Homo sapiens: one gene and its partner. The protein of the gene in region 2 purifies or fractionates together with the protein of the main gene of each other region. This does not show direct contact. Each region holds a gene or a part of one and is shown on either strand. Other genes may lie near its edges. The genes, in order: COL14A1 and TIMP4.

Region 1 (3,817 bases), on a different chromosome or scaffold from region 2:
ACAAGAATCACAAAACACTGCTAAGAGAAATCAGAGATGACACAAACAAATGGAAGCATCCCATGCTCATGGATTGAAATAATTCTTATGAAAATGATCATATTTCCCAAAGCAATCTACAGATTCAATGCAATTCCTATACAAATATCAACATCGTTTTTCACAGAATTAGAAAAAAAATCCTGAAATTCATATGGAACCCAAAAAGAGCCCAAATAGCCAAAGCACTCCTAAACAAAAAGAAAAAAATCTGGAGGCATCACATTACCTGACTTCAAAGTATACTACAAGACCATAGTTACTAAAACAGCATGATACTGATATAAAAATAAGCACATAAACTAATGGAACAGAAGAGAGAACCCAGAAATAAAGTCAAATACATACAACCAACTGATCTTGGACAAAACATTCAAAAACATAAATTGGGGAAATGACACCCTATTTAATAAATGGCACTGGGAAAACTGGATAGCCACATGTAGAATGAAACTGGATCCCTACCTCTCACCTTATACAAAAATCAACTCAAGATGGATCAAAGCCTTAAATCTAAGACCTGAAATGATAAAAATTCTAGGAGATAACCTGCGAAAAACTCTTCTGGACATTGACCTGGCAAGGAATTTATGACTAAGACTCCAAAAGCAAATTCAACAAAAACAAAAATAAATAAATGGTACCTAATTAAACTAAAAACCTTCTGAACAGCTAATCATCAGAGTAAACAGAAAACACAAGAATGGGAGAAAATATTTGCAAACTATGCATCTGACAAAGAACTAATATCCAGAATCTACAAGAAACACACACAAATCAGCAAGAAAAAAACAAATATCTCATCAAAAAATGGGAAAATGGCATGAATAAACATTTCTCAAAAGAAGATACACAAATGGCCCACAAACATATGGAAAAATGCTCAACATCACTAATCATCATGGAAATGCAGATTAAAACCACAATGAGATACCTCCTTGCCCCTGTAAGAATGGCCATTATTATAAGTCAAAAAACAATAGATGTCGGTGTGGATGTGGTGAAAAGGAAATATTTATACACTGCTGGTGGGCATGTAATTTAGTATAACCTCTATGGAAAACAGTGTGGAGATTTCTTAAAGAACTAAAAGTAGATTTACCTTTGGTTCCAGCAATCCCAGTACTGGCTATCTACCCAAAGGAAAAGAAGTCATTATGTCAAAAGACACCAGTAAACATATGTTTATTTTAGCACAATTCACAAATGCAAAGATATAGAACCAACTTCAGTGCCTGTCATCCAATGAGTAAAGACAATGTTATATATATATGTAAAAAAATATATTATATATATATTTTACACAAACACACACCATGGAATACTACTCAGCCATAAAAAAGAACAAAGTAATGTACTTTGCAGCAGCTTGAATGGAGGCCATTATTCTAAGTGAAGTAATTCAGGAATGGAAAATCAAATACCGTATGTTCTCACTTTTAAGCGAGAGCTAAGCTGTAGCTACACAAAGGAACACAGGGTGGTATAATGGACTTGGAGACTCAGAGTGGGGAGGGTGGAAGGTGGATGAAGGATAAAAAAACTACATACTAGATAGAATGTACACTACTTGGGTGATGGGTGCACTAAAATCTCAAACCTTGCCACTATACAATTCAACCATGTAACCAAATACCCTTGTACTCCAAAAGTATTGTAAATAAAAATAGGTTCCCCACCCTGTGTCCAAGTGTTCTCATTGTTCAATTCCCACCTATGAGTGAGAACATGCAGTGTCTGGTTTTCTGTCCTTGTGATAGTTTGCTCAGAATGCTGGTTTCCAGTTTCATCCATGTCCCTTCAAAGGACATGAACTCATCCTTTTTTATGGCTGCATGGTGGGGGTAAGGGGGAGGGATAGCATTAGGAGATATACCTAATGTAAATGACGAGTTAATGGGTGCAGCACACCAACATGGCACATGTATACATATGTAACAAACCTTCACATTGTGCACAGGTACCCTAGAACTTAAAGTATAATAATAAAAAAAAATAAAATAAAATTAGGTTATTAAAAAAGAGGAGAATAGGTAACATGCTGAGGCATGTCAGAAAGAAGCAAGTTCCCTTTGAATTGCAGGAGACTTTATAAAAATGGTGACATGTCCAGTAGACTGATAAACTGGCAGCAGCTTAAGGCCCATTTAAACAAAGCTCTCGAAAGATGCTATCTTTACTTATTAAATCATAATTCTGAAAAACAAATAAAAAACAATTAAAAATGATCCAAAAGTTCCACAGGAATAAAAGCCAGTTGTAAGAACTGAAGCCAGAAAGCTTTGTATAGTAGTGGTTAAGAACATACATTTTGACCTAGAATAGACCTAACTTCAACTGTTGACTCTGCCAGTGACCACTCTTGTGATGTGCAAGTAACTTGTCTTTTGCAGCTCAGTTTCCTCAAGTGTAAAGTGAGTAGAATAGTAGTAATTACTTCATAGGTTTGCTTCATAAGGAAATCTTTGTAAAGAGTCTAACTCTGATTTTCGGACATTTGTCAAGTTACCAAGCTTAGGCTGCCATTTTTAAACTGTCAAATGAGGTGGCAAAAATCCTACAAGCTTGAAAGATTTTTAAAAAACTACTTTCTGAAAGTACTGAGAGACACATGCACTCCTATGTTCATTGCAGCACTATTCACAGTAACAAACATGGAATGCCCATCAATGGTGGACTGCGTAAAGAAAATGTGGTGAACATACAGCAAGAAATACTACGCAGCCATAAAAAAGAACAAAATCATGTTCTTTGCAGCAACACGGGTGCCTCTGGAAGCCATTATCTTGTGCAAATTAACACAGAAACATGAAACCAAATACTGCATGCTCTCACTTAGAAGTGGGAGCTAAACATCGAGTACACACGGACGTAAAGACGGGAACAATAGACACTAGGGGCTACTAGTAGGGGGAGAATAGAAGGAGGCTGAAGGTTGAAAAACTGCCTATTGGGAACTATGCTCACTACCTGGGGGACAGAATCATTTGTACACCACCTCTCAGTGACATGCCGTTTACCCATGTAACAAACCTACACAATGTACCCTCTGAATCTAAAATAAAATTTTTAAAAAAGAAAAGATGTATTTAATTTGTCTTCAAATTTGGTATGTAACTTGTATGAAAGAAATTTTAATCCAAGCAGATTTTGTAATGAGATAATGAAGAAATTAAAACTACAGGTGACACTGTGCTGTTGCTCTCTGACCCAGTGGAAGTCTACATATGTGTGAAAATGAATACACCTTCTCTCTCCAGGTTGCAATGGTTCAGTTCACTGATGATCCCAGAACAGAATTTAAACTAAATGCTTACAAAACCAAAGAGACTCTTCTTGATGCAATTAAACACATTTCATACAAAGGAGGAAATACAAAAACAGGTATGACCAAAAGAAGCCCAGCTAAGGCTCAAAGTAATTCATTATTTGTAACTACTGAAATGACCTTTTATTTTAAGGCATAGTAATTTTTTAAAGATTTTTTTTTTCATTAATTTAAGAACTTTGTTCCCACCCTTTCTTCTCCAGAAAAACAAAAATGGGAGGGAGTGAAATCAAACTGTTGCCTTTCTTTGTTTCAGGAAAAGCAATTAAGTATGTTCGAGATACCTTGTTCACTGCAGAGTCAGGTACAAGAAGGGGCATCCCAAAGGTTATCGTGGTTATAACTGATGGAAGATCACAAGATGATGTGAACAAAATCTCCAGGGAGATGCAATTAGATGGTAAGATATATAAACAATAGTGGCTACCAAATATGATGTTAGAATTGTTA
Region 2 (4,568 bases):
TATGACTCATCAAGAGCCATGTCTGGACAGTGAACTCTTTTAAGGACTGTGCCTTGTTACTGAATCTCCACTCTCCTGGCCAAGGCATGGCAGTGACTAAGTGGTCATTCATTGCTGAATGTGTGGATAGATCGTGGAATCCCTTCACCTGTTCCCTCCCCCACTGCTGTGCTTTTTCTTTCCCTTGCTTTCTTTCTAAATATTGTTTTATGTTTTCAGGCCAGTTTAGATCCCACCTACACAATGAAGCTTCCCTGATAGTTCACAACTACCAAATAGTTCCGTTCTCTGAACTCCAAAATAATTTAATGTTGCATTCATTTATGGAGTCATATTTTTGTGTGATTCTTTAACTGTTCTATCCCAGCCAATTCAGTATGGAGGAATCCTGCCTGGGCCCAAGTTCACAGAGACAGAACTATGTTAGACTCAAGCTCCTGTTAAGTCCTGTGCAAAAGGCAGAGTTGACCTGCAAGGAGCAGTTTTAGAGAGGAGACTTCGACTCAAGTTGCCAAAAATCTTATACTAATTTAAACTATTTGAAAAACGGAAGCAGCTGCCCTACACTGGGTGAGCAGCCTGTCCTTAAAATAGTGAAACGGTGGCCAGGGTCACTGTACTAAGAACTCTTACATTTAAAGGGAGGTTACAAGGCTCCTCCTAACCCAGAGGTTGTCTGTCACTAACACAGCTCTGTTTTATGCCCAAGAAAATGCCACCTGGCTCAGCCTACTGCCCAAGGAAGACCCTGGCTCCTTTCTCACTACCTCCCCTAGGGCAGAATCTATTATATTAAGGCCAGTTGTTGGTCTTTTAACTTACCAGTCAAGAGATACTGCTTCTGGCTGTTGGCTTCTAGTTTCACACCACAGAGGGAAGAGTCAAAAGGCGTATAGATATACTGAACATCCTTGACTTTCTCAAACCCTTTGAACATCTGACAGGCAATTACAAAAAAAGGCAATATTGGGTCAGTGAGTGTACTGTATATATTAACAGACAAAAACCTCTCACTTCTCAGCCTAAAAATGTAAGCAAAAGTCTAGTTGAGGATTTTGTGTCCTCAGATGTCCCTACTGGGTTATTTTCTCTCTTAAAACAAAACAACAACAACAAAAAACACCTAAACCTTGGTTTATTCCAGTAGGTACCTGTAGTGGCACCATACACCAGCAGCTGTGGGACCAGATGGATGCTGAGGCCCTCCCTGGCAATATCCCTGGGATTCTATGGGCTCTGCCTCCAAATCTCATCCAGTTCCACTTCAGTATCTAGACCCAAGGATTACTGAGCCAGGCCACCTGAAAGCTACCAGCCCTCCCAGAACACAGACTCCACTTTCTCCATCAGCCTTAGGGGCTACACATCCCAGCCTGCCCCCATGTACCTTTATCTGTTTGATTTCATACCGGAGCATTTTTTCAGTGTCAGCAGGGTCTGCACTGGCCGGAACTACCTTCTCACTGGAGATTTTGGCCCGAATCACTGCATAGGAAGAGAAAAGAGGGAACCTTCAGCAGCTGGTGGGGGCAATACACCTGAGGTCTGGATGATCCAGGGTCCATGAAGAAGTCTATAGGGCAGTTCTTGGTTTTGGTGTGGCTGGGTTGTGAGCAACGTGATGTGTGAGAAGGGGGACCTGGAAACACCTCCCCTGCAGTCACTGGAAGTTCCAAACCCCTCAGGCTTATTAGGTCCTATAACCGCTAAGCTGTTTCTGCCTTTTGAACCAGTTAGTCTGGAGAGCTCTAGTTCTCCATAGCCGTTTGTGCAGTGGGGCACAGGGTAGGAGTCAGAGTAGAGAAGGGAGGAGGAGCCCCTTCAGGGCAGTCGGTGTGAAGTTTATCTATTGCTGTGGTCAAGGCCTCTCATCCCGCCTACAGTTGATATTAGTAAATGTTTATTGAATTCATAAATGTTCTGACCCTGCACTGAGGTATTGCATCTCTTGCCATTTGAGCATTAATAACCAAAAACTGTTGATGATGTTCTTCCTCTGTGCCTGGCCTTGCACTAGGCACTAGGCCCATAGATGTGATTAAGACAGGGTCCCCATCCTGCCGAGCTCTTGATCTAGTGGAGTGCACACGTGTAAAGAACAACAGCACAGCATAGTAGGAGCGCTAAGACGGTTAGAGATGCTGAGGCGGCACCAAGGAGCCCGGGAGCCTGCAGAGAAGGGGAGAGACCTAAGTTAGCCCTTGAAGGATGAGTAGGAGTCTGCCAGGAATTTAAGGGTGTGAGGGAGGGCATTCCAGGCAGAGGGAAGAGAAAGGACAGAACGTGTGTGTTGCCATAGGGGCTTGGTGGCAACCTCAGTTATAGGCCTGGACAGACACGGGTAGTTACAATGCAAGCCCTCTCCCCTCCCCTTTCTGTCCCCAGTCTAGTAGTTCAGAATAATCATCAGATAGCTCCGGTGACACCTTGTGTAATGACACTCCATAATTGCAGTATGGCCGGAGTGAGGGAGGTCGCTATGGAAGTCCCTGATGAAATCTTCATTTCCTTATGAATCAGTCAGGTTCTGGGCTTGCAAGGTTGCTATGGCGCCTGGTCCTTCTCCACCCATCAGCCTCAGCAAGAGACAACCGGTAAGAATTTGAGCTCCTCCCTTTTCCTCTGGACTCCTGGTGTACTGCTGGCCAGATACTAATCCCCCACAACCACCCCCTGCTGTGGACCTCGCGGACCTCGGACTCACCAAGTGCCGAGTGGCAGATGTGCTGCTGAGGGTGCGCCGGGGCGCAGCTGCATGCCTCACCCAGCCCCGGGGGCCGCAGCAACGCCAGCAGCCGCAGCAACAGCACCCAGCTTGGCGCGGGCCGAGGGCTCCCAGGCATGACACTGCAGATCCGCGACTGAGCCTGTGAGGTCTGGGGGACTGGACGGCCCCAGCAGGGCTCCTTCCCAAGGCCGTTGTGCCCCTCGCCCCAGGCTTTATGAGGTGGCCCTAAGGGCCAATCCCGCCCCGACGGGCTCCGCCTTCCTTTGGCTCTAGGCCACCCGCGGAGGCAGGACCCGAGGCTCTTCCGACCTGCATACTCAGTAAGATGCAGAGGGAAGCCTGGAAGGAGGCCCTGACCTCTGTTTCCCTGCCTAAGTCATGAAGCGATCTGGAAGCAGAGGGGAAGCACTGGGAGAGGGGATGGTGTCAAGGGCAGAAAGACGGAAAGAGCCACAAAGACAAATGCATGAGGACAGAAAAACTGAGGGCTGTGATTCAGGCAGAAAGAACAAGAGTGAGGAGAGGCACAGACAGAAAGAGTGAGACAGGCAGAGTCCCAGAGAGGCAGACAGAATTACAACAGGCAAAAGAGACAGTGACAGAGAAGGACGGACCCCTTGCTGAGCTGCACGCTGGGAATGAGACGAGCTACTCAGGGCTTCTTTCAGCTGCAGGAAGTGCTTTCAATGCCCTATTTATGAGGCTCCAAAGCAACAGCAAACAGTAATAGAACAGGACAGAGAAAGTTGGGGTGTGTGTGTCTTGGCTCTGTTGCCTGGGGGGTGGGGAGAGATGTCAAAGAAGCAGCCAGTGCTTTAGAAACCCTTTCTCACTCCCAGAGCCTCAGACTCTCCAGATAGCTGGAGACAGCGCTCTTGGTGTACAAAACACAAAGTGTCCCATCACTTAGGGCAAACCTTGGACCTCAAAGCCCTCTCGAGGCCCTAGACTACATTGATTTTTATTGCATGTCCCTTCTCACTGGAGACTCTGTCATGTTCTAGAAGGTGGGACAGCTTAGAAAACAAAGAAGCAGGCTGGGCGTGGTGGCTCACGCCTGTAATCTCAGCACTTTGGGAAGCCAAGGCGGGTTGATCACCTGAGGTCAGGAGTTCGAGATCACCCTAGCCATCATGATGAAACTCCGTCCCTACTAAAAATACAAAAGTTAGCCGGGCGTGGTGGCCTACACCTGTAGTCCCAGGTACTCAGGAGGCTGAGGCAAGAGAATGGCTTGAACCCAGGAGGCGGAGGTTGAAGTGAGCTGAGACTGTGCCACTGCACTCCAGTCTGGGCGACAGAGTGAGACTCCGTCTCAAAAAAAAAAAAAAAAAAAAAAAAGTAAAAGAAAAAACAAAGAAGCAGGGGACTTGGGGGTGACTGTGACCAGAGCCTTGTCTGCTGTTTGGGCACAGTGTTGCAAGCCTCCAAATCCCAAATCTCCATGGGATTATTGCTGTGGGATGTTTCCACATGGTGCTGGACTGGATAGTGGGAGGCTGGGTTCCAATTCTGACTGTCACTGTAGCTTTGTGACTTTTGCCTCTCTGGGCCTCAGTTTTTTCTTCATAAAGTAGAGTTGAACTACGTGATTTCTAAAGCCCTTTGAAGTTCTTCTTCCCATCCTTGGCTGGCCTCAACCAGGAATGCTGAGATCCTCAGGCCAGATACCCCCAGTATCTGTTCAAATCTTAGTTCCCATAGGAGTCTGACTTTTCATCAGGGTCAACATTATTTCCTTCAAAGGATACCTTTTCATTTTGATGGTGTTAGTGATATTTGAAAAGAAGGGAATTGAAAGAGAGCTGAGTCTGACTGAAAGATGAAATGCCCGGGTTAG

What was found.
Region 1: the proteins of TIMP4 (region 2) and COL14A1 purify together in Homo sapiens (affinity purification with mass spectrometry; one large-scale study listed by BioGRID and IntAct). This does not show direct contact.

The regions. Positions count from the first base shown.
Region 1 is NC_000008.11:120,274,812-120,278,628, forward strand, and holds part of COL14A1 (collagen alpha-1(XIV) chain isoform 1 precursor), read left to right. Parts: intron 1-2,673; coding exon of another isoform or gene 2,674-2,688; exon of another isoform or gene 2,689-3,121; intron 3,122-3,299; coding exon 3,300-3,423; intron 3,424-3,623; coding exon 3,624-3,767; intron 3,768-3,817. UniProt on the Homo sapiens protein: Plays an adhesive role by integrating collagen bundles. It is probably associated with the surface of interstitial collagen fibrils via COL1.
Region 2 is NC_000003.12:12,155,998-12,160,565, forward strand, and holds the start of TIMP4 (metalloproteinase inhibitor 4 precursor), read right to left. Parts: upstream 2,916-4,568; 5' UTR 2,844-2,915; coding exon 2,705-2,843; intron 2,595-2,704; coding exon of another isoform or gene 2,493-2,594; exon of another isoform or gene 1,895-2,492; intron 1,486-1,894; coding exon 1,388-1,485; intron 938-1,387; coding exon 823-937; intron 1-822. UniProt on the Homo sapiens protein: Complexes with metalloproteinases (such as collagenases) and irreversibly inactivates them by binding to their catalytic zinc cofactor. Known to act on MMP-1, MMP-2, MMP-3, MMP-7 and MMP-9.